Linked DNA regions of Homo sapiens: all the other regions are linked to region 2. Evidence: fine-mapped expression QTL. A gene starts in region 2. Each other region holds a variant in brackets. All regions are shown on one strand. Distances are between the middles of the regions.

Evidence for each region. PIP is the estimated chance that this variant, and not a neighbour inherited with it, causes the effect. A credible set is the group of variants that fine-mapping cannot tell apart.
Region 1: its variant is the best candidate, but not a certain one, in a credible set for the expression of SIPA1L2 in tibial artery (GTEx, PIP 0.55).
Region 3: its variant is the best candidate, but not a certain one, in a credible set for the expression of SIPA1L2 in whole blood (TOPMed, PIP 0.75).
Region 4: its variant is the best candidate, but not a certain one, in a credible set for the expression of SIPA1L2 in whole blood (TOPMed, PIP 0.75).
Region 5: its variant is the best candidate, but not a certain one, in a credible set for the expression of SIPA1L2 in ovary (GTEx, PIP 0.56).

The regions. Positions count from the first base shown.
Region 1 is chr1:232,411,917-232,417,023 of GRCh38, reverse strand. It overlaps SIPA1L2 (signal induced proliferation associated 1 like 2), which reads left to right. Exons shown (of 23, transcript NM_020808.5): 19 at 1,399-1,530. Among named protein-coding and RNA genes, the nearest start is that of SIPA1L2, 220 kb to the left of the region's middle. The variant A/G (reference allele first, on the strand shown) is at 1,930.
Region 2 is chr1:232,627,634-232,632,740 of GRCh38, reverse strand. SIPA1L2 (signal induced proliferation associated 1 like 2) reads left to right here and starts at 2,608. Exons shown (of 23, transcript NM_020808.5): 1 at 2,608-2,872. It overlaps LOC124904551 (a long non-coding RNA gene), which reads right to left and starts at 2,159. Exons shown (of 2, transcript XR_007066943.1): 1 at 1,305-2,159. RefSeq lists silencers at 2,191-2,670, 2,731-2,830.
Region 3 is chr1:232,363,676-232,368,782 of GRCh38, reverse strand. It overlaps LOC105373196 (a long non-coding RNA gene), which reads right to left. Exons shown (of 3, transcript XR_949273.2): 2 at 1,412-1,550. Among named protein-coding and RNA genes, the nearest start is that of SIPA1L2, 260 kb to the left of the region's middle. The variant T/C (reference allele first, on the strand shown) is at 1,955.
Region 4 is chr1:232,601,297-232,606,403 of GRCh38, reverse strand. The region is part of intron 1 of SIPA1L2 (signal induced proliferation associated 1 like 2); the gene reads left to right. Among named protein-coding and RNA genes, the nearest start is that of SIPA1L2, 26 kb to the left of the region's middle. The variant GTC/C (reference allele first, on the strand shown) is at 2,853.
Region 5 is chr1:231,853,908-231,859,014 of GRCh38, reverse strand. The region is part of intron 9 of DISC1 (DISC1 scaffold protein); the gene reads right to left. All of the region lies in intron 12 of TSNAX-DISC1 (TSNAX-DISC1 readthrough (NMD candidate)), which reads right to left. Among named protein-coding and RNA genes, the nearest start is that of DISC2, 38 kb to the right of the region's middle. The variant G/A (reference allele first, on the strand shown) is at 2,664.

The sequences.
Region 1 (5,107 bases), 220 kb after region 2:
AGCAGCTGCATGCAGTGTTCTGGGCAGGTTCAGAAAAGGCACATTAAAGTCCAGTTGAAGCCTTTTTAGAACTTGTCCTCAGATGCGTAATAAGTTCTTAACAACGAGTATTATTAATGACATAAACACTTAAGTACCTTGATGAGAGTTTAAGGAGAAAAAGAAATGGAAAAGGTCCATTCATAGCCAAAGGAAAACCACCCAACATTGAATACAGGGTGGGTGAGTGGTTTCTGCTTTAGCCATTGATAAAACTACCTTACTAAGTCAGAAAGGTAATCCAACCACTATGTGTGTGCTTTGTATATCAAATAGCATCCTCAATCTCATGTATTGATAAAAGCAAAGTTGGTCTTACTACATTTTTATAATCAATTGGTATTTGAGGCATCTCAAGTTTGTGGTGCTCAGCTTAGAAGTGTTCCTCAGTAAGCTTTATGAATCAGGATGGAGATTGTTCCAATACTTCTTACAGCAACGTAAACCCTGCAACACTTTTAAAAAGAGGAAGGTCTCCCCTGAAGAAAATGAGGATTTGTCTTGCAATAGTCAGACCTGGATGTACTCAAAAGAAGCCCCCTGGAAGAAAACCGCGAAATTACAATAGTGTACAGAGGCTTGATTCTAATCTTCCTGCCATCCCTGCCCTTACATGCTGGCCAACCTCTCACTAGTGCAGACTCGCCTGCTTTTTACAAACCTCCATTTTTCCAGCTAGATCCCTTTTGGGCAACTGCAGCCTCATGTTTTCTTTTTCCATTAAGAGCAGGAAAAATTATCTTGGCCACTTTGGGAGGGGATGGTGGTTCCTGTGCTGACTGACTCACTGGGAGGGGATAGCATTGCCTGTGCTGTGCTCCGACTGACTGACTCCTGACTGACTCTGGGAGGGACAGTGGTGCCCGTGTTCTGACTGACTCTGGGAGGGACAGTGGTGCCCGTGTTCTGACTGACTGACTCTGGGAGGGACAGTGGTGCCCGTGTTCTGACTGACTGACTCTGGGAGGGACAGTGGTGCCCGTGTTCTGACTGACTCTGGGAGGGACAGTGGTGCCCGTGTTCTGACTGACTGACTCTGGGAGGGGCAGTGGTGCCCGTGTTCTGACTGACTGACTCTGGGAGGGACAGTGGTGCCCGTGTTCTGACTGACTCTGGGAGGGACAGTGGTGCCCGTGTTCTGACTGACTCTGGGAGGGACAGTGGTGCCCGTGTTCTGACTGACTGACTCTGGGAGGGACAGTGGTGCCCGTGTTCTGACTGACTCTGGGAGGGGGCAGTGGTGCCCGTGTTCTGACTGACTGACTCTGGGAGGGGCAGTGGTGCCCATGTTCTGACTCACTCTGGGCTGGTGCCCGTGCTGTGACTGATGACTGACTCTCTGGTTTTGTTTCTGTTTAGATGAGTTCTGGTTCTCCGATGGGTCCTTATCAGATAAGTCCAAGTGCGCAGATCCTGGCCTGATGCCCCTCCCGGACACAGCCACAGGGTTAGATTGGACCCACCTCGTGGATGCTGCACGGGCATTTGAAGGTAAAGACTCACCAGCCTCTGGCCTCACCCCTTACCCTGGGAGTGCTTTCCTGCAGGGCCTGTGCGGCATCTTAGGGGAGCCCGTCTGTCTCCCATCGTCTGGTCAAAGTTTTGAATGTTTTGCCTTGTTGGATGATGAAAACAAGCAGGGGCTGGCTTGGGCTGTGAGGACATTTCCTGAGGGAGATCATGTCATTTAGTAAAAGGAGCACTAGGCAAGAAATCTGAAAACCCGAATTCTAGCTCTGGCACCATTTGTGACCTGGGTGGGACCTCTGTTTCCTATCTGAAAAGTAGAGGTGATTGTATGGAGAGCACCTTGCGTCTTTCCTCATAGCATACTGAGGTATAATGTGGGGGACACATTTAGGAGGCGGGAGCTGCTGGGCTTCGCCGGAC[A/G]AGCACAGGCCGAGAAGTCTGTTCACCTGGCGTAAACACAGACTCCAGCGTGATTGGCTTGACCCATGCAAGTGTCTTTGGCTGTTGAGGCCTCGGCTTCTTCCTCTTAAAATGTGGGTCAGTGAGGGTAGGTGGGCTAGCCAATCTCTAAGAGCCATCCAGCTGCCACACTGTCTTCTGTCATTTTTGGTTGAGGCTACCCCTTCAGGAACACCTTTGTCCAGCTCGCAGATAAAGGTAGACAAAACAAGGAAGATGCTTGCTTCACGTGCAGCCTCAGGACCTCACGGTGATACTGTGTAAACCTGGGGCCCTCGGGATCGTGACTTATGACGTTTTGCCCTTTGCCGCTGCATTCTTCAGTGAGTTTTTACGATGGCAGGCTCTGGCACTGGGGAACCTGGCAGCTAGGACTGACAAAGGAGGCAGGATCATTTTAGTAGGGGCTGTTTAATGCCCTGCGCTCTGTGAGACTCTCATGGTGTAACTGAGTCACAGCATCCTGGAGGCGCCCGAGTCCACTGCTGCCTTCTCAGGCCTCAGGGCCCTTCCTTCTCTTTCTCACTCCCCATTTCTTTTCCCTTCTCAGTCTCTGCTAGCACAGCCCCATCACCTGTGACACCAGGCCTCAGGAAACAAAATCAAATTCTTTTCCCAGGAGGGGAGGTGCATTTGAAGTCAAAATGCGGAAGGTTGAGGGTTCACTGCCCCTCATCTGTGACTAGCGTAATGCGTTAGGGAGGCCCGATGGTGGCTTCGCTCTACCCAGCTGGTATCAGTGCCTCTGGTCCTGAGCCTCTGGGAACAGGAGTTGGAATCCACTCTCAAGTGGACACAGGGGAAGTAGGTGAAAGGCAGCTTGCTAGGAGGAAGCTTCTGCAACATGAATGTGCGCTCACTGCTCCCTAAATGGAAGGAACGAGACTGCTTTCTTTACAAACCACTCAGTCCTTGTAGAAATTTCAGAAGAGCCCTGTCTGCCTGTCTGCCTTGTGGGGAGACCCTCATTCTCTGATGCTACCAGAAGTTAGTTGCATATTTTAGAAGCCCCAGGCTGGTGGTCTAGTTGTTTCCTGGGCTCCCCATGCTTCTAGCACTTTCTTGGGCATGACCCAGCACCAGAGCACAGGGACGCTGTCTTTACCTCTGTCCAGAGCAACCCAGAGGGGAGGTAACACCATTTTCTCTTTCCCTGGGGTGTTCTTTACACACTACAGTCTCTCACTCTGACCAGATCTTTCTGCCCCAGGAGAGATTAGACCAGAGATAAGATCTCTGTGTGGCCTCACTGTGTAACTATCTGCAGAGTACTGAACGCACTGAATTCTGCTTCATTCTCATGCCTGTCTCTTAAGAGATGAGTTTCTTAAGAGAAGGCTGCCTCTTTTATTATTTTATCTGTATTTGTCAAAAATACATATCAAGATAACCAAAGGAGAAGCGCTAGTAACAAGGAGTAAGTAGGTATTCAATACACACAGTTTTACACAGCCCAGAACTATCCCAGCTCATAGCACAGCTCTCAACCTCTTATATCCTTTTGCATTTTGTGATCACCTTTCAGATTTCAAACAATATTTATCACCTTATCTCTGTATCTACCCTTGTTTATGTCTTTACTTGGTTCCCTTCCACCCCTTTCAAATGTTCCTTCAGAACAGAATGACTGCTAGAAAATGCATTTTTTTTTCCAGGGGATTAGAGAAGGCAAAATGGTGCATGGACTGAATGATCAATTTAGGGATTTCGGTCATAACTTCAGCCATTTCTGGGCCATAGGCCTTTGGACAAGTCACTTAACTACTATGACATCCACACTTTGTCCCAATACTCTTCTAGGTCTTTTACAAATATGAACTTGGTGAATGTTAAATAGTAATCCTTTTGGACATGTGCTGAATTAATTTGGGCTTCAGTCTTCTCATCTGTAAAATGAAGAACCAAAGAACCTGTAAGGAAAGCTTCATCTAGTCCTAAACCTCTAGTTCTGTGGTTTCATTATCAACAAGTATTTCTAAGCTGAAGTAAGAGTATGGGTGGTAGTTGGCACAGAAGGGAAAAAGTATGACATGGAAATTCTCCCTAGCCAGTGCCCTCAGGTACATGAATGCCTAAATTAAACAGAAAATAATGTAATATTCTATTTGCCAAAGGAGAAGACTTTGGTTATCTGAGCTTTAACATTGATAAAATAATGTGGAAGGAGTTACCACTGACCCCTAACATTGATAGATAAAATAATGTGGGAGGAGTTAGCATTGACCTCTAACATTGATAGATAAAATAATGTGGAAGGAGTTAATGACGTGTTTAATTTTTGATGCTGCTCCATAGGGTGGCATGTCATGGTGAGACAGTAGCCAGCTTATGAAAATTTGGTTGAGTATGTGTACCTCCTTTGGCTAATCAGGTTCCCTTGTATCAGTGTTGCCTCAGGTTGTATCCCAGTGACCTGCTCCCCTGTCTCGTGAGTTGCATGGTGGTGATGAGCGTGATCAATCTCCTTAGCACTTTTAAAGAGAAATGTCTTCAGGTAGATAACCCAGTTGCCCTGCTCATAACTTTATCTTTTTGTACCAGTTCTCAAGGCCATTTCTGAGCTAGAGTAAACATTATAAAGAAAAGATAACCCAAAACATGTCCATGTACTTGTTTATGTTATTGCTGCAAACTAACAAAGGCAGTTCAAAAGGCTTATTGCCTCAGACTTCCTTGGAATAATCCTGTGCCCCTATTTCAGTTAGTATATCTGAAAATAGGCTTGGAAAATGGAATTTACCTGCCTATTGGATTGAGATCCCATGATCCCTATAAAATCCAATAGTGTAATTGATCCCTGGCAGACTTGCCTCTCCCCCATTAGTCTACCTCGTTTATGCTACACATTTTGGCATATGATATGTTCACCTTCATTTAAGGGCTAAAGTTGACATTGGATGCGAGTTTAAGAATTTAGATTTTACTATACCACTATACTATACCAATTTAGAGCAGAGGCACCAAATTAAGCTGTCAAATCATGACTACTTAAATGTTTAAACTCTATTCGTGCAAGGACCATAATAAATGGTATAGTTGTGGGTGAGAGTCAGGTATTCTGTGCATAAGGACTCAGTAAGCTCCCTCCAAAAAGGAGGCGTGTTTCCAGACCACATTGCTGACCATAAGGCAGTGATAA
Region 2 (5,107 bases):
GGAACATTCCGATGAAGGCCAGCCTCATGTGACGTGGAGTTCTGGGAAAGTAAGAAACTCCCACGGACCTTCATAAACGTACACAAATATTTACTCTGCACAATCAATTACAGGCATTAAAAAAAATACTGCCAACCTTGGTAGTGGGGCTTAGGATATTTCAATTTTAGTTTGGAAAGCACAAGAAGTGGGATGGGAAGGTGAGAGAGTGAGAATTGTGGCTAACACCGTCATCGAAGAGTGTCTGGTCAGACTTCCTTCCATATATGATCATTATGTACTGGATATTAAGGAACACATCAAAGGGATGGGTTCCTCTTCATCTATTAGACAGTGTACATTTGTAGCTGCAGCAGTTAAGACCCACCTCAATGACAACCCACTGACCAAGGATCTGCTCCGGATTGTAGTGGATTTGTGCCTTAGGGATCAAAATGCTGGAGGAGATGTGGTTCTTCTCCTCAAGGCCCTTATAGACAATGAAACACGCAATAAGGTGAAATGTGATCATGTCCTCCCTAGGCACTCCCAGGAAAAGTTCCTTCACGGCTGCTCCTCCTGCAGGGTTTTGTTGAGTACACAGGAGATAACATTGATACCTCTTGTAGAGTATCTACAACATATGAGGATACACCTGTGAGTTGGTGAGCTCTTGAAAAGCCGAGCCTTATGTCCTGTGCATTTTATATTCCCAGCACCTAGTATGGTCTGGAACATCAGAGGATCTCCATAAATCTGTTTTTTTTTTTTTTTTTTTGAGACGGAGTCTCACTCTGTCACCCAGGCTGGCGTGCAGTGGCATGATCCCGGCTCACTGCAAGCTCCACATCCCGGGTTCACACCATCCTCTTGCCTCAGCCACCCGAGTAGCTGGGACTACAGGTGCCTGCCACCACAGGCGCCTGCCACCACGCCCGGCTAATTTTTTGTATTTTTAGTAGAGACTGGGTTTCACCGTGTTAGCCAGGAAGATCCTGATCTCCTGACCTTGTGATCCTCCCGCCTCAGCCTCCCAAAGTGCTGGGATTACAGGCTTGAGCCACCGCGCCCGGCTTCATAAATGTTTGTTAAATGAATACATGACAATCTTGTAAATGCTGATAATGGGGTGACAATTGGGAAACTCATCAAAACCTGGAGTGCTCAGGAATTGTATTATGTCACAGGATTGCTTCTTGACCTGTTTAGTTATATCTAATCCCACAGATTATACCTATAATTTAAAAAGATACGAAAGATTGTATAATGTGTACATGCTTCAGATCACAGAGAAATATAGTGTGGGAAGGACCGCCTCTATTTACCTTTTAACAGGGCTGTGTTCTAGGAAGTGTTTGTGATAGGGAAGTAGAGATAACACTTTTTCTTCAGGAAGAAGTCTGACTCTAGAAGGGGAGAAACTGAAAGCCCCAATCCAGTCTCAGGGAACCCAGCTCAAAACTCTGACAAAAAAGCCTGCTCAGGAAATTCTACGGTGTGGCTGGAAGGTAAGTTAGAGGCTGCCTCCACCTGCTTTATTATTCCTGCGTATAGATGACTGTTGCTGTCCATTTAGGCAGAGTCAATTCCAGTCTAGCTTAAAAGATTCTTCTGAGACCCTTTAATCTTTCAGCATCTAATTCAAATGTCAAGCAATTTACAATAATAGTTTCAAATAATGCTTCCTCACAGGTGAGTCAACATTTCTAAGAAAGCAGAAAAGTTGGGTATAAAAAGTTCAATTCTTCCTCGTCGGAAAAAAGATGCAAGACATTTCTACCGTGGGCTGAGCGCTGCCTGGAGGGCAGGGAGGAAGGGGTGAGCGGACCGCGCTGGGATGTGGGTGCCTGGAACTGCCAATCTCTCCGTTTTCCCCTTGGCTCCTAAAGGTCTCTTAGCAGCATTTCCTGCACGCTGGCACCCCCTGTCCTCCTAACGTTTTACTGCCTGCGTGTTTCTCTGTGCTTCCCCACCCTCCGACCCACAGGGCCCGGGGCGCCCTCCGGGGGCCGGCACACAGCAGGGTCTCGCTTCCTCGCGCTGTCTTCTTCAGATGGGATCACTTCGACTTGCGGCCGTTTGGGCGTTCGCGGGGCCTCGGCGATTCTGTGGCGTCCTGGGCTGTGTATGTAGCCCCAGCGGCCGAGGCTCACGGATCCGACCGCCCGGCCGCCGCGTCTGTCCCAAGTTGGGAGACGGGAGGGCCGGGTGGGGTCGCGCCTGCGCCAGGGGGCGGCTCAGAACCAGACTCGCGGTTTTTAACTTATTCCTCAGAGGGGCGAAAGCGAGTCTCGACAAGGACGGCGACGGCTCTCTAGAAGCCGGGGTCCAGGTAGGCTGCCCGGCCCTCGAGCTCGCCCAGCGCCGCTCATGATGCGCCCCGCAGCCCCCTCCCCAAGAAGGGCGTCCGGGCCCCTCCTGGACGCGCAGCTCCCGCGCGCCGCGGGGCCTGGGAACAGCGCACCGGCTGCGCCCGGAGCCGGGCGGACGGTGAGACTGACGGCGTCCGCGCCCAATCGTGGGGCGGGGCCGAGGGGGCCTGCAGGCAGCGACCAATGGGAGCCCGCAGAGCGGGCGGGGGGCGGTGCCGCTGGGCGGGCGGGCGGTGGCATCGGGAGCCGGCGCGGCAGACTGGGAGCCCGGGAGGAGCTGGCGGAGCGAGAGGAGGAGGAGGACGGAGGAGGAGCACCGCGCCCCCGCCGGCCGCCCGAGCGCAGGCCGAGAGCTCCAGCCGCAGCCAGCGGGTCCGGGCCGCCTCCGCCGGAGCCCGGCGCGGGGAGAGTCCGGGCCGATGGGCAGCCCCGGGCAGCGGCGGGCGGCGAGGCGGCAGCCCGGGTACGCGCCGCCCGGCGCGCACAGGCTGTAGCAGGTTCCGGCGGACGGCGTTGCGAAGGTTCGTGTCGGGGAATCCGACGGGCAGCGTGGCGAGGGTCGGTTCGGGATGCCTGCGGCCAGGCGGGGACTGTCCCGAAGGGGAAGGGGATGCCCTTCGGGGCGCTTTGGGGGGCTGACGGCGGCGAGGGGTGCGAGGGGCGCGGGGGTGCGAGGGTCGCGGCGCAGGGTCCGGCTTGTAGACGCAGATGCGCCCGCGCTCCCGATCCCCGGCTGGAAGAGGAGCCGCCGCCGCCTGTTCTCTCCAAGTTATCGATCGGCTGAAAGGTTATTCCCGTCTCGGCGACACAGGCACTGAGGAGGGTCTTCTCCAGGTGCCCAGAACTTCGCTCTGACTAACGCTCTCTGGAAGGGCTCGCGGTTGCCCGACGCAGCTTCCCCGGCGCGCCTGGCCAGCTGACGCCGAACTTGCTGCGGGGCTAATTCCCCTTCTAGAGGGGGTGCGCCCGGAGCGCGCGCCCTCACCGGGACGGATCCCTCTTTGTAAGACCGGGAGCCTCCGGCGAGCGCTCTTCTCACTCACCGCGACCTTTCTTCCCACTTTGCCAGCTCCTGGGCCTCTCCGGGTCTTCCCGTGTCAGTGAGGGTAGTTTGCCCACGTCCTGGGAATATCCCTGGGAACACCTACAGATTAATTTTCAGCCGTGCCGCAAACCCAAAGAATCAATTTCGGCTCATCATCTGCAAGAGAGAGCCGAGGCTTCTCGGAAAGAGAGAACAACTTGGCATTACCCCTGTGGGAGATATTTGTCATCATTAACCTGCTTGAGTTAAATTAATTCAGCCCAAGATGACTCTGGCCTGAGTATTGGAAAAAATCAAGTGCATTGGTTACGGAATTGTGCTCACCAAAACATGATTTTGGTCAAAACAAAATTGTAGACATTTTGGATTTTGGTTAGATTGAGACTGGGTTTTGACAAGGATGGCTTTTTTTTAAAAAAAACAAGGAAAAAAACCCTCAAAGAATCTTGGTGATTCTCATGTCTTTGCCCAGTAAGTTCAAAATAGTCGCACAGATTTTTCTTTTCTTTGCCTCTTTTGTCTGCAGTCTCCATTCTAAACGTTAACACTAGATGGCTTTCTTATGACAGACATTTAGTAAACTGCCCATTTGAGTCGCGTTTGTGTGCAGCCTAGGTTGTAATTTTTCTAGTGTTACAATTAGTAATTGAAGAAAAAAGATCTCCCAAACTGTTGCTTTTTATTGCTTTCCTAGAAAACCTACACATACCGATATTTTTGCGGATATTGAGAGGTGGCCTATTATTTTTGGCATTCCCAAAGTTGAATTTCAAGAGACAACTTGGTTACTGTATTTAGTTACATCATTTAAGAATGCTTGTTTCATGTTTGGACTTATTTAAAGAATTCAGAGTTCTGTTAGTTTTGTCATTCTGTTTAGACAATATTTCCAGTTAAAAGATGTTTACCGCTTGATTGAATTTCACTGCTTGATTCAGAGTTATAAGAGAGTATTATTCATGAGAAAAATGCAGTCTTTCTTAAGTTTTGGGTATAAATCACATTGATTCTTCCTAAAAGATTCCATTGATCCATTTTGGGAAGAGATGCAGTTAAAGTATCTGCATGATTCATACCAGGGATTGTGTTAGGGACATCTCCCCAGAGGATGTTTGATTTTTTCATTTCTAAGCACAAGCCCTTTTATGACAAGCACAATAGCCCGTAGTTTCAGCAGTAACAGCAGCAGCAGCAGCAGCAGGCTCCCAGTTATGTTTTTAAGCACTTTTATTCTAAAGCAAGATCACGGCAGCCTGTCCAAATCTTGCCTAGGTAGGCAAACTTATTTATACGCTGAGTAAATATCTTGAAATTATCTTTGTAGCTATCATTTATTGTGTGCCTTGCCCAGCTTAAAATAAGACATACTGAATTTGTTCTAAATTAGAGTGTATTCATAAATAGCTGAAGGAAAAAGAAGAAAAACTACAGAGCAAACATCTGGGAAGTAGGAAATGAAATCAGAAACAGCTTTTATCAGTACCCACATTCTACCTATAGATGGGGTGAAATGAACCTGGATAAGAAGCAGTGTAAGCACTTGATCCGGAAAAGCAAGAGCTAGATCACAGGTATGGGGGTGGAGCTTCTGGCTTTTAGTATGGGCCACAGATTTTACCCAGTTGCTTTAAGTATATGTTTTTCATTAGATGCTTTTTATGTTTTGAAATCATAGATTTTCTCAAAGAGCTTTAATTGTATGGAATGTAAC
Region 3 (5,107 bases), 260 kb after region 2:
GTATATATAATATGAAATATATAATGCAAAACATAATTATAATATAAAATATAAATATATAATACAAAATATATTAATATTATATATAATACAATATATTATATATTGTATTATATATTATATACAATACAAAATATATTATATATTGTATTATATATAATATATAATAAAATATATTATCTATAATACATAATAAAATATATTATATATAATACAAAATATATTATATAATGTATTATATATTATATGTAATAAAATATATATAATACAATATATTATATATTGTATTATATAATATATAATACAATATATATTATTATTATATTATATTATTATTATATATTATAATATATTATTATATATTGTATTATATATAATATATAATACAATATAATACATTATAATACATTGTATTATAATACAATATATTATATATTGTATTATATATAATATATAATAAAATATATTATATAGTATTATATATAATATATAATACAATATATTATATAGTATTATATATAATATATAATACAATATATAATATATTGTATTATATAATATATAATACAATATATTATATATTGTATTATATATTATATAATACAAAATATATTGTAATATATATAATACAAAATATATTATATATAATAGAAAATATATTGTATATTATATATAATACAAAATATATATAATAGAAAATATATTGTATATTATGTATAATACAAAATATTATATATAATAGAAAATATGTATAAGTAATTTATACATATTATAAAAGATATATTATTAAAATAATATATATCATTTATATATAAATGGTATATATTTATAGATGAATTTTTTTTTTACTGCAAATTGTTGGAAATTATAGCTTGAGAGATTTTCTGCTGTTTTACATCAACATTTCCTAACGAAGATTGTGTACATTTTGGGCCCAGTTTTTCTGAGTCTTACGTAGATTTCTGCTGACGCCATAGCTGCAACCCAAACTGGAAGAAGATATCCTACCATGCTTAGCCATAAATTTAAATAACTGAACAGTTTATTCACCAGAGCACGACTATCCAGGGTCTGTTTCCTAAGACACAGCAAACACTCTGACGGCCATCCTGGGTTCTCTGCTAACTCACCTGTTCTCCTAAACAGCAAAGGGTCAAAGGACAGGTGGGGAAACCACGGAGCACCTTGCATTCCTCTGCCCCTGTTTTCCTCTCTGCAAGTCCCTTGTGTATTCAGTTTTGCAGTCAGTCTAGCTAAGGAGACTCTGAGTCAGCACTCTCTTCAGCCTTCAAGCACCGCATTGTTGGCCATCTCCTGATTCATGCCATCAAACCCAAGCTTTGCTTTTGACACCAAGATAAGCTTAGTGTAATATGATCATGTCATTGGTTAAAGAAACAGAGCTAAACACCTGTGCATTTTAGCAGAATGGATGTGGCTTCAAGTCTGAAAGTCGACTATCTTGCAGGGTGGTGTTGTCTGCCTCTGCAGTGATGAAAGCAGATGGAGGCAGTAGCTACTGACGGTTACAGAGTCATAGATGCGGAGAGCTGGAAAGGAACTTAGAATTAATCTACACTGTGTCCTTTATCATTTTAAGCATCAATTAAAATTTATGAAATCATACATAGAAACCTACTCATTGAAAAACACCAAACAGCTGTAGAATAAGAGGAACTTTCCATCTTTCATCACATGCCCCATAGTAATGGTGTCTGTGGATCATCATCTATATTTATATACAAGTCTTATATAAATGGGATCTTTCCATGTTTATTATTTTGAGACTTATTTTTTATTCCTTAAGAATAGATCTTGGAGGTCTTTCTATGTCAGTGTGTATTATTTTAACAATTGCATACGATTGCATGGTAGGACTGTCCTGCAGTTCAGGTGATAATCTCCCAGGAACAGACTTTTTGGGGTTTTCCCAGTTTCTTACTATTACAAACAG[T/C]GCTTCCATAAATAATGTTTACTTAAATTTTTGTGCACCTGTGCAGGTATTTTTTAAGGTTAGTTTCCTGAATTGGAACTGCAAAGATCATATGAATATAAAATTACATAAACACTGCCAAATTTTGTTTTTTGTCTTTTTTTTTTTTTTTTTTTTTGAGACGGAGTCTTGCTCTGTCGCCCAGGCTGGAGTGCAGTGGCACCATCTCGGCTCACTGCAAGCTCCGCCTCCCGGGTTCACGCCATTCTTCTGCCTCAGCCTCCCGAGTAGCTGGGACTAGAGGCCCCTGCCACCACGCCCGGCTAATTCTTTGTATTTTTAGTAGAGACGGGGTTTCACCATGTTAGCCAGGATAGTCTCAATCTCCTGATCTCGTGATCTGCCCACCTTGGCCTCCCAAAGTGCTGGGATTACAGGCATGAGCCACCATGCCTGGCCGACACTGCCAAATTTTGATCCCAAAAGGATATACCAATTTATCTTCTACCAACATCGAATGAGAGTGAATGTCTTTTCCTGCCAACATTAGATGTTTACAATGTTTTTAATTTTTGTTAATCAAGTAGATAAAAAAGAAATTATATTGCTTATATTGAATTTCCATTAGTATATTTTCAAGTGTTTATTGGCCATATGAATTTCTTTATCTGTTACTTGTTCATATCTTTTTCCCTTAAAAAGCATATGCAAAATCAATAATAAAATTGATTATTTTTTAACTTTTGGTCTTGTAAGAACTCCTTCTGTAGTTTGTGCATTAAGAATTTTTTCTGTATGTTATGAATATATGTTATATAACAGATATAATACATATTTCTTATATATTTCTAATATATAAGACTATATTTTTATAGTCTTGCTCATTTTTAAACTTTATAACATTTTTGTCGTAAATTGTTTTGATTTTCAGGTAAACACAATTGTCTACCACTTCCTTTAGAACATTTAGGTCTTACTTCTTGTTTAGAAAGAACTTCTGCATGCCAAAGTTATAAGATTATTTGCTTATTTTTATAAAACTTATATTATTTTGCCCATTTACATCTTAGGCCAATTTGGAATTTGTTTTTATATATATGTGAGCAGAGTATCTAACTTTATTCTTCTTTCACAGATGAGTAGCCAACTTTTCTGTCACAATGTGTTGAACTAATCGATGAAATAATTTCATAACTTTTCTGCTGATTGGAAATGCGAATTTTACCACATACTGAATTAATATGTTTCTTCTCTCTCTTTTGATGCATGGATTCATTGTCCTATTTGGCTAATCTGGACTATGAATATTCTGGGATTTTTCCTTGTTATTTCTTCTTTTATTATAGTTTTATGGAGATATAATTCACATGTCATACACTCCGTCCATCTAAAAGGTATAATTCAATGGTTTGTATTATATTCACAGATTTGTGCAACCATCAACATATTCAATTTTAGGACATTTCATCACCCCCGAAAGAAACCCTGTACCCAATAGCTATCATACTCATTCTCCATTTCTCCCCAGGCTCACAGGTTCTAGGCAATAACTATTCTCCTTTTTTTCTCTATGGATTTCCTATTCTGGATATATCATAAAAATGGAATCATACACTCTATGGTTCTTTATGAGCGGGTTCTTTCATTTAGCATATGTTCAAGGTTCAGGCCTGCTATAGATACTCCCTTTTTTCTTTTTGTAAACATCATTTATTTTTATTGTCATCTAATATTGCATTTTATGGATATACCATATTCTAACTTAGCCATACCTCAGTTGATGAACATTTGGGTAGTTTCCAGCTTTTGACTACTATGAATAATGCTGCTGTGAGCATTCATGTACTTGTGGACATGTATTTTTACTTCTCTTGGATATATATGCCTATGAGTGGAATTTCTGGGTTATATGGTAACTCTATGTTTAACCTCATTTTGAGGAACTGCCAGACTGGTTTTCACAGCAGCTGCACCATTTTACAATCCTACCAGTACTGTATGAGGGTTTTGATTTTGTCACATCCTGGCCAACATTTGTTATTGTCTTTTTTTATTATAGCCATCTTAGTGAGTGTAAAATGGCATTTCATAGTGGTTTTTATTTGCGCATGACTGATGGCTCTGAGTTATCTTTTTATATGCTGATTGAGTAAATGAGATGTATGCATCAGATGAAAGAGTTCAAACACTTGGGTTGTGGAGATGCATGACACAGAAGCGTGGGTTCCCTGATGACTTTCATACCTGCTTAACTGCAGCAGCATTTACTTGTCATGGAGGAATAAGGCAGGCCTATTTTTAGTCTTCACAACATACTTGTGGACCTTTCGCTTATACTCTTGTAACCTAAATATTTGAAAACACTGACTTAAATATTTTGACTCTCTCTCTTTTTTTTGAGACTGAGCCTTGTTCTGTTGCCAAGGCTGGAGTGCAGTGGTACAATCATAGCCCACTGCAGCCTCAAACTCCTGGGCTCAAGTGATCCTCCCACCTCAGCCTCTTGAGTAGCTAGCACTATAGGCACCCACGCCATGTCCAGCCTTGTTTTTTTTTTTTTTTTTTTTTTTTTTTTTTTTGTAGAGACAGGGGTCTCACTATGTTGCACAGGCTGATCTCAAACTCCTGGCCTCAAGAGATCCACCTACCTTGGTCTCCCAAAGTGCTAGGATTACAGGTATGAACCACTGCACCTGGCCTCAACTCATTTTTTTTGCCATTGCCTACATTTCAGTTAATAGATAAATACTAAAATCCCAGTTTTGTTGAAGTGACTTGCCCAACATATTGAATTTTCAAGAAGGATACCACCAATGTTAGAATCTTTCTCTCTTTTTAAAAAATAATATCTTAAGTTCCCAGATACTTTTATAAGATAGTTAAATTTCTCCAGTCTAACAAACCTCAGATAAGTGGTTTGATGGGTTTGAAGCTACTTCGTTTTTTGTTTTTTATTTTGAGACGGAGTCTCACACTGTTACACCCGCTGGTGTGTAGTGGCGCGATCTCAGCTTGCTGCAACATCTGCCTCCCAGGTTCAAGCAATTCTCCTGCCTCAGCCTCTCAAGTAGCTGGGATTATAGATGCCCGCCACCATGCCTGCTAATTTTTTGTATATTTAGAAGAAATGGGGTTTCACTATCGTGGCCAGTCTGTTCTCAAACTCCTGACCTC
Region 4 (5,107 bases), 26 kb after region 2:
ATGTCTTTTTAGCAGTATAATTGCCGGCCCTTTGGTACTATGCTTTTTGACATTTATGTTAAAAATAAAAATTAGCTAATTTGTAAGTTATGAGGTCTCAAAAAAAAGTTCATTCCTCTTTCACGCCTGTTAATGCTTCTATTAAAATTCTGAAATGGCTTATTAAATTAAGTGCAGTGTCAAAGGCTAATTGTCTCTTTGTGAATTAGTCTACATGACTTATGAAAGCATGTTTTAAGAATTATGTTTGAATAGCAACTCTGAAGTCAATTTTTAGTATCTATCAAATTGTAATGATAGTAGATGAAAAGTATTAATAGATTATGAGGTCCTTTCTCTTGCTGTTACAAAAGATGCCTATAATATATATTTGTTGTTAATGTACTTGAAATTTCTTGAACTCAGTAGCATCATGTGTCTGAGACACTGATATGAATATGTGGTTAGAATGTGCTGTGTGTGCTACAGCATTGTCTGATGGATCAGAAAGCAGCAACTGTGTCTGACTGTGGCACAGGCAGTGCACGTATGTGTGATGTGTGTAAGAAGTCCTATCATATTGTTGGAGAATCAGAAATCCTGTATTTTTTATTTTTATCTTAATGTAAAAATTGTATTTCACAAGCCAGTATAATTTTAGTGGAATGAATGTGAGGCTTGGAGTACCTTATTTTTTTGTTTTTTGTTTTGTTTTGTTTTGTTTTGTTTTTAAGACAGAATCTCGCTCTGTCGCCCAGGCTGGAGTGCAGTGGCGCGATCTTGGCTCACTGCAACCTCCGCCTCCCAGGTTCAAGCGATTCTCCTGCCTCAACCTCCCAAGTAGCTGGGATTACAGGCACCCGCCACCATGCCCGGCTAATTTTGTATTTTTAGTAGAGACAGAGTTTCACCGTGTTGGCCAGGCTTGTGTTGAATTCCTGACCGCAGGTGATCCATCCGTTTCGGCCTCCCAAAGTTCTGGAATTACAGGCGTGAGCCACCACACCCAGCTGGGAGTAACTTCTATTCAGTGTCTTTTGAACACCTACCATGGTTTGTTCACTGTGATATTCCATGGTTTGAACCTGAAGTCTGTACTACCTTGGGTGGCTGGGCACAGTGGCTCACACATGTAATACTCCTGGCACTTTGGGAGGCCAAGGAAGGTGGATCATTTGAGCCCAGGAGTTTGACACCAGACTGGGCAACATGGAGAAACCCCGTCTGTACAAAAAGATACAAAAATTAGCTGGGTGTGGTGATGTATGCCTATAGTCCTAGCTACTCAGGAGACTGAGGTGGGAGAATCACTTGAGCCCAGGAGGTCAAGACTGCAGTGAGCCATGATTGAGCCACTGCACTCCAGCCAGGGAGACAGAGCAAGACCCTGTATATTAAGTCAGTTCTTGCATTGCTATAAAGAAATACCTGAGACTGGGTAATTTATAAGGAAAAGAGGTTTAATTGGCTCACGGTTCTGCAGGCTGCACGGGAAGCATGATGCTGGCCATCTCCTTGGCTTCTGGGGAGGCCTCAGGAAACTTATAATCATGGCGGAAGATGAAGTGGAAACAGACAGGTCTTATATGGCCCACACAGGAGGAAGAGAGGAGAGGGGTTATGTGCCACACACATTTAAACAAACATCTCCTGAGAACTCCATCATGAGATAGTACTAGGAGGCTGGTGCTAAACCATTAGAAACTACCCCCATGATCCAGTCTCTCCCACCAGGCCTCACCTCCAACATTGGTGATTACAATTCAACATGAGATTTGGGTGGGGACACAGATCCAAGCCACATCACTCTGTCTCAAAAAAACCAAACCAAACCAAAACAAAACCCAAACAGATACACCACCTTGGGCAAGTTGAGCCTTGATTCTCACATCTTGAAATGGGGATTAGAGTATCTATTGTGAAAGATTGTTGTGAGATTCTGATAATGCTTGTGAAAGTGCTTTGTCAAGTGCCTGGCACATAGTAGGTGCACAGTAAACTATAGTTACTTTTCTGCGTTATTGAACATCTGGTATGTGTTAAATAACTTGTCTGCCTACACTGGAGCAGAGTGAGAGGAGGCGGCTGGAAAGGAAATGAATACAACAGACTATAAAAGTGGAGTGAATTTTAGTGAACGAAGAGGTTTTTAAAGTCAAAATACAAAAATTGTATTCAATGATGAATATTCTTCTCATTAGTGATAGTGAGTCAAAACAAAGTTGATTTGAAGGGAGTTGGTGTAGATTCTCACAGGGGAAGTTCCCTTATGCTTTACCACGTGCTGGAATCTTTTGAAGATTCTTAAACTGATAAGCAAGAGTCTGTGGATGCGTTGTATCCTTCTGCTTGATGTAATTAATCCCTGTGGTGGAATCAGGTTGATTTGTTTGAAAAATGCCATTCAGCAGGTCTTAAAAAGCATAGTCTGATTGTGGATTTAGTAAATATGATGTCCACTTCTGTGAAATTCCCTGCTCGCTTCACTTCTGTATTTCAGAAGGTCTCTTTCTGCTGGGTACCCTTTTACTTAGTCGTCAAAAATAGGTAACTTGAACTTTTCTGATAGTTTCTATTGGGGCCTAGAAGAAATGGTCTCAGTAAAGACTTGGGGTATAATGATGTGGCTGGTGTTAGAGCAGGGCCTGAGTGCCCCATGTGGATCTAATGGTCACCTGCATCAGTGGATGGCAGGGCCTGGAAGGAGAGGTGGGTTTCCATGACCTCGCTGCTGTGATCCTAACCATCCCCCAGCTCTCCCACACCTCTGAACCCTGCTGGTGCTGCCCCAGTCTTGTCTTCCACCCATGGCTTTCGTCATCTGGCCTTCCCTCCCGGCTCTGTGGGTCCTGGTATTGCCAATCCTACGGCTT[GTC/C]CTCAGGCCGCATCCTCTGTTGCTTTCCGCTCCTCTTGACCCTGAGTGACACCCTGCTGTTCAAACGTTTACCTCTGCGCCTCGTTCTCCTCCCTCCCCTGGTCGTTTTTCTTCTACCCTTGCTGGCCTCTCCACCTCTCAATGCCTTTTAAACACTGGGGTCTCATGATCTTATTGTCACTTTGCATGATCGATCACACCTCCCTAAGTGGCATCTTTCACAGCCTCTGGAAGGAGACCTCCAGATCTTTACCTGTCTGGCCTTTCTCCAGCTGTCCCTAGTCGTCTTCCTTGGATCTTCTCAATACATTTCACAGTAAATAAATCCTTTCCGGATCTGTTGTCTTCCCCCCAGATCTCTGTTGCACTCTGTTCTTTGTCTTAGTATGTGCTGTCACTGTCAACATAGGACGCCCAGTTAGACGAAGCTTGTTGTCCTCCCTAACTCAATCCTTATACCACGTGTCTGGTTGGTCACCAGCATCCGCTAATTCTGCATCAGAAATGCCTTCGAATCTGTCTTTTTTATCCCCCCTGCTCCTGCCTTACTTAGGACATGTCATCCTTCATTGAATTTTGAAATAGCTTTCTAGCTGGTGTGTTCAATATGGTAGCCACCAACTGCATGAGGCCATTTAAATTTAGGTTAACTAAAATTAAATAAAAATAAAAATTCAGTTCCTCATTCTCACTAGCTACCTTTCAGGTGCTCAACGGCCCCATGTAGCTGCCATACTGGGCATTGCAGGAGTAACATTTTCATCACTGCAGAAGTTTCTGTAGATACCGCTGTCTAGCTCATCTCTCCGTCTCCAGTTGTCTACTCTGCCCATTTCATCCTTCATATTGCTGCCAGCATTTTCTGCGTGGAAACAGTCATCTAGTTATGAGCCTTCCCTGCTTAAATAACCTTCTGAGGGTGGCCAGAGGCAGTGGCTCACGCCCGTAGTCCCAGCACTTTGGGAGGCCGAGGTGGGTGGATCACGAGGTCAGGAGTTCAAGACCAGCCTGGCCAAGATGGTGAAACCCCATCTCTACTAATAATACAAAAATCTGCTGGGCATGGTGGCGTGCACCTGTAATCCCAGCTACTCTGGAGGCTGAGGCAGAGAATAGCTTGAACCTGGGAGGCAGAGGTTGCAGTGAGCCAGGATCGCACTACTGCACTCCAGCTTGGGCAACAGAGTGAGACTCCATCTTAAATAAACAAAACAAAACAAAAAACCTTCTGAGGGTGCTTGAGTAAAATCTGCACCCCTCAGCATGGACTGTAGGTCCTCAGAGCCTCCCCTCTCCTCCCACACCACTCTCCTTGGTCTCTAGACTCAGAGGCTCCTGCCCCTCACCTCTCATCCAGGTTGGCTTTGCTGCTTCTCTGCCTGTGCACAAGCTCTTCTTGTTGCTTGGAATGCCCACCTCCTTGTCTTCAGTCTTGCCTGCACTTTCTCTCTGGTAGTGACTTCCCCTCCTTGCCTTGTAGCATTTGTTTACTAGGCCACCTTCTCCATGCGAGGGCTTTTCTCAAGGGCATGGTCTTCAAAGGTTTTTGTCTTTGCACCCTCTGAAATAATTTTTAAAAAACATATACTCCTTCACATGCTTGTAAGGTGACATCCCATATTTTAAATCATAAATAATAGTATGTTTTTGTTAATAGCAAGTAGGAATTGTTAAACATATTATGAGATGAAAATAATATGAAGATTGACTTAGTTTGATATACCTTTTACAATAGAATTTGAGATAATTGATTTTATCTACCTGGTTGAAAAATGTACTGTAAAGAATACAAGTAAAATTGTTACCTTTGACATTTCTGTAACTTGGCTTGAACATTTTGGCGTTTGGTGTGTTGGGGGTGTGGAATTTCAGAAACATTTAAGAGCATCTATGCCATTAAACCTGTATGTCTTCAGTTTTTCTGAATCCAGAACATCCCCAAATGGGCCAAATTTCACCCATAACAGAAATGTGTTGAAGACACATAAAAACTGGAAGCCATATGGATTCAAGGGACCATGGGCTATAATTAATCATCAAAGAAGACATCTTGATGATCAGTGTTTTGAGTTATCCTTTGTTTGGTGCCCTGAGGTGTTTTAAACTTTGGAAGAATGCCCCATAGTAAGATTTCAGGGAGAGTGGAGCTGTTGCAAAGACAGGAATGCCCGTCTGTTTTCAGAAAGAGTTACATAGGGAAGGTGAGGGTCTCAAAATTGATTCTGTAGGAGGATTGCTTGGGCCCAGGAGATT
Region 5 (5,107 bases), 770 kb after region 2:
GAGCCAGCTGAGGATGAGTGGGCACTCAAGAGTTATAGGGTGTATTTTAAAATAGAAATTAGCTTCTGGATTTTGCAGACTTTTCCAGAATACCTCTGACCAATCAATAGCTTTCACAAGGGTGACCCTGAAATTCATCAACGTTTTACATTTCCAGACCCCATCTCTGAGGTTTCTACTTTCCCCAGATACTTGGAGAAACCTGGGAACAAGGCAGGAGTTATTAAAATACTAAGAAGGCCAGAAGCAGGAAGGTATGGAAACTTCTACAGCACTCCCCAGAGAAACGGAACATGAGGAAGAAACTTGGACTTTGCAACATCTTTTTTGAAAGTGAATAGAAAAAGGAAGACTACAGGAATCGACTCCAAATTGTAACCTTCAGCAGAACAACAGAAAAGGTTGTCTAACCCAGCGAGTGTGTGGAATAGTAAATAAGAAGGTTGAGAAAGAGTAGGGAGACAGAGGAAGACAGCATGCGACACAGACCAGAATGAAGACGAGCACCCTTGCCACCTCCAGAGACAGGCAGAGCTCATGACACAAGTTCAAAACAGGGCTCCCTCCTCTTAATAAGGCTTTCAAAAAAGATCCACAGGAAATTAACTGGTTTTATCCACATGGAAGACTGATAATCAGCCCCAAATGAATGATAAATTGACTAACCATTGGAATTACCTGGAGAACTCTGAAAAACATGCTGAGTCCAGGACCACCTTGGACCAAGGGCTCACCTGCTGGGGCAGGTGGCCCGGATGCTTAGCCAGGGAAGAGAGCCATGGCTATAAATAAGCCCTGACTTAATGTCTTGGAAGACAAGACAAGAAATTCAGTGAGGCTATATTTTATGGGGCAACTGAATTATTAATTGAGTTAGTAAAATCTGTTTTATTTTGCTTTTTTGGTGAAACAACTGAACTGACACAAGTGGTTGTTTGCTTGGATGCTTCTCCAGGCTCCATCCACAATTGTGTTTAGCCCGGCAAGCCACTGGAATGAATTTCCCAGCTGCAATTTAACCCGGGCCTATAGCGGCAAGAGTTAGCTGATGTTTTTCTCCCTATGCTCCAGTGCCTTCAGGGAAATTTGACTTCAAGGTGGGGTGGTGGCAGGCACTTAGGTTTCTCCTCTATAAACCTTTTAGAAAATGCTTGGAAATCACAGCCATAGAAACCAAGCAGCATTCTTGAATGCACTAAGCGGCCAGATTCCGGGTAGCCGGTCCACATTCTTTCTCAGTGTGGCCCGTCTAGTTCTGACAGTGAGAAGTCATGGCTGCATTTGGACTGTGCTGATTCCGGAAGAAAGTCAAACAGACTTCAGCTAACTTCAAGATTCTCTGTAACAAACAAACAAACAATTTTTTCAAGATTCTAATCATTCTAGGTTATTGTTTGCCTGTGTTAGTTATAAAATCCCAGCATCACAAAAAATACTTGACAAGGTCCATGGAGAATATCTAGTATAACCCTAATTTTTGCTGTGAGGAAACTGAGGCCCATGGTGTTTAAATGGCATGGCAGGGATCTGGGACAAACCCCACATGTCGTGATTCCCAGGCCAGTGGCGTCTTCACACACCTGGAGTGCCATCAATGACACTTATCCAGATAATCAATTATAAACATTTTAAATCAGTTAAATAGATCAGAGTTTTCCTGTGCTAGACAGGCTATCCATGTCAACACATGACTTCGAAATGTGTGAAAAAGTAAGAGTAGTACTTTAATTTCTGAAATAAATTTGTACTTGGGAAAGTGGGGCTGACATTGGAGCCTGTAGTTCTGGAGGGTCCCCTAGAGCCCTTGCCTTTCTGTTGTGACCAAAACTCACAGAGTGCCTTGACCGCTCTGTGACCCAGACAGCTGCAGGTTTTTCCCAGCAGGCTTGAACCCAAACCAGGGCCTTGAACATTCCCACACATTGATAAAGGTATCTAAGCTTTTGCCCAAAACACTGAAAGAAACTGGCCCTGGCCCTGAGCCAAATTCCTTAAACCCTCATGTAAACTCCATCCCCTGAGCACCTCGCTGTGGATGTTTCTAGGTGGAAGACCCCTTTTTTCATGCTGCCGCCGCAGGATTGCTGCAGCCCACTCTGCCTAAGTTCCCCTAATGAATGCTTTGGCCTGATCACTCCGGCTTTTACTGCTTCTTTCTTTGGAATCTCAGTAGGCCCCATCTTGGGAAAGTTTGGGGCACTCCTTTCTGGGGACTCCCCTGCCACCACCTTTGGGGTAATTCCAATGATAGGTTCAGCAGGATGAAACAAGGTCACAAAATGAAGCTTCAAGAGGATATGAAGGAAAATACCATGACTTCAGTTCCCCACTGAGCAGCACTGGGAACCATTATCATTGCAACCTGCTCACGCAGGGCAGGCAAGCTCCCTGGGCCGCAGCCACATAAAGAAATGGCAGGGGCAGGTTTTCAACTAGAAGGTCATGTGCCTGAGCACAAGAGAATTACCCTGGAGCAGGGACATGAGAGAGAATCAATGCATGGGAACTAACGGGGCTGCAGTCACTGAAAGCACCTGGAAGTAAGCTCATCCTTAAAATAAATATGACAGATTTCCACAATATCCACAATATCGTTTCAGCAACTTTGATTTCAAACAGCATTTCATTACCAACTGCATTTTAATGGGCACCCCGAGAACAGA[G/A]GGGAAGCAGAATAGGGGAAGGGGGAAAGGAGATGATTAACTGCTCTTATGCTCCTGGACCTGCCACCTTCTTCCTGCCTCTTCATTGCACAGTTTCTGCCCTGCATTTTACCATCCACATGCCACAGGATTCATTATGTTCCAATATACTGTGACACATAAATCTGCAATCCAACCGAGAGCTCATAAAGGTCACCATCCAAATTGGGCAACCCATCTCCCATCTGATCATTCTTGCAACTAATGAGCTGTTTAGGCTCACACAGCTTGACAAACATTTGTATGAGTTTATGTTTGCTGAAGCCTTCGGCATATGCACGTCAAGCCAAAAACAAAGGTAGAAGTGTCATCGCCAGATAGTCACCCAGAGAGTGGCAGCCACGACTTTCATGTTCAAAGTGCCATTTTAGGATCTGAGCTTAAACAGTACAGCAGCTGTTTGATTTGGATATCACATAAAATTAATGGCCTAACTAGCAATGAGAACCTTTTTTGGAATATGCACGTGAACATATTCAAGGAAGAAAGATGTGCCTAGGGTTTTTTCAGACTTTGAATCAAGTCCCAAAATAGAGACTTGCTTTTGTGGGCTGTGAAAATGGACCAACTGAAGAGAAAGAAGGGGAAACGTCACTTCCCTTTGGATATAATCACCCTTAAAGTCATTTCATGGAAAGGAAAATAAGCCATCCTTAGGAAGGAGAGAACATAAGGACTCTTGGTTTAAGGGCATGAGGAACATCTCAATTGCTCATCCTCAACCCCTGCCCTCCAATATTTGTGGTTTAGGCTTTATGTTGTAAATGCAAGAAAAGGGACTACTTCATGAAGAGAGTTCAAAAAGAGAAGTGGGATTTCAAGTTTGGGAAGGAGGATTGTTATTTGTGTGTTTGTCTTAATGGAAATTAAGTTTAACTGCTTGCATCAAATGGGGAACATTCTATCACTGTGGATGAAATAACTTGAGCTCATTTATGGAAAGTTATTTTTGTCTTTTTAATGTACTGTTTAATTGACAAAAATTGTATGTATTATATATATAACATGTTATTTTGAAATATACATATGTTATATAGAAAGTTATTTATGAGACACTCTTGTGATTCTTTACAGTACAGTGTAAAGTGAACAAAGACACTTAGAATAAGGTGTAAGTTTTCAAAAGTGTCATTCACAAATTTAAAGATTCACAAAGGACGCTGCATCAACATTGAAAACCAAAATTTTCTTCAACTTTTTAAACTTCTTTTATACTTCCACTAAATAAATTTCTTTCCTTACCTAGAATTTCTTATTTTTCATTTGATATTTCCTCACATTAAAGAATTATTGTAGGGGCCAGGCACAGTGGCTCATGTCTGTAATCCCAGCACTTTGGGAGGCTGAGGAAGGTGGATCACTTGAGGTCAGGAGTTTTAGACCAGTCTGGTCAACATGGTAAAACCCCATCTCTACTAAGAATACAAAATTAGCCAGGCATGGTGGCGGGCACCTGTAATCCCAGCTACTCCGGAGGCTGAGGCAGGAGAATTGCTTGAACTCGGGAGGCAGAGGTTGCAGTGAGCAAGATCGTACCACTGCACTCCAGACTGGGCGACAGAGTGAGACTCCATCTCAAAAAAAAAAAAAAAAAGAATTATTTTAGTTCCTTAGTTTCTTGTATCACATACCTCCAAGTACAGGGTGATACACTACACACCACATAGGAGAGACATAACTTTGAAGTCTAGGATACAAACTTGAATCTTTTCAGAACATAACAACTAGAGGAGGCCTTGCAAAGATTTAACAGCAGGAGGAGAGGCTGACAGCAGGAAGAGCACATGAGAATTCATAGTTATAGCTAAGTGTTTTATTAGAAGGTTTACATATACTGCTCTACCTTTTATATAAAAGAACTATATGGAAATGGATATTAGTAGGTATATTTGCCAGGAGTTTTTCACATATTACACATATTTAACAATTTAACAGGCATTTTACTTTTTAAAAGTTTTACAGTTCTATATATCACATCTATCATATTTCATATTATCACATATATCACTTCAGTTGTCCCTCAGAATGACTAGAATAGGATTTCATGCTCACTTTATAGATGAGGAATTTGAGGCTCAGAGAGAAAAAAATTAGAATGACTTACCCACAATCGCTTAGTAAGAGGTCAGCCGGGATTAAAACTCAGGCCCACCAGACAACAAAGCCCCAGCAGAAGCTAGCCTCATGTTGTTGATTTATGTATTTGTGAGTTGGTTATCAGCCCCAGGGTCATCGTGACCCAAGAATCCCCTTGGGCCGCCCTAGACTGACCACCCCACCCAGGTGGGTGAGCAGCTTGGCCCTTCGTCTAGGAGATTGCTACACTCATCTCAATCCTGTGCAGTAAACAACAGATTATTATTGTCAGTTTAGCTGCTAAAGGAGGTTGTTTAGGGTGGTATTTC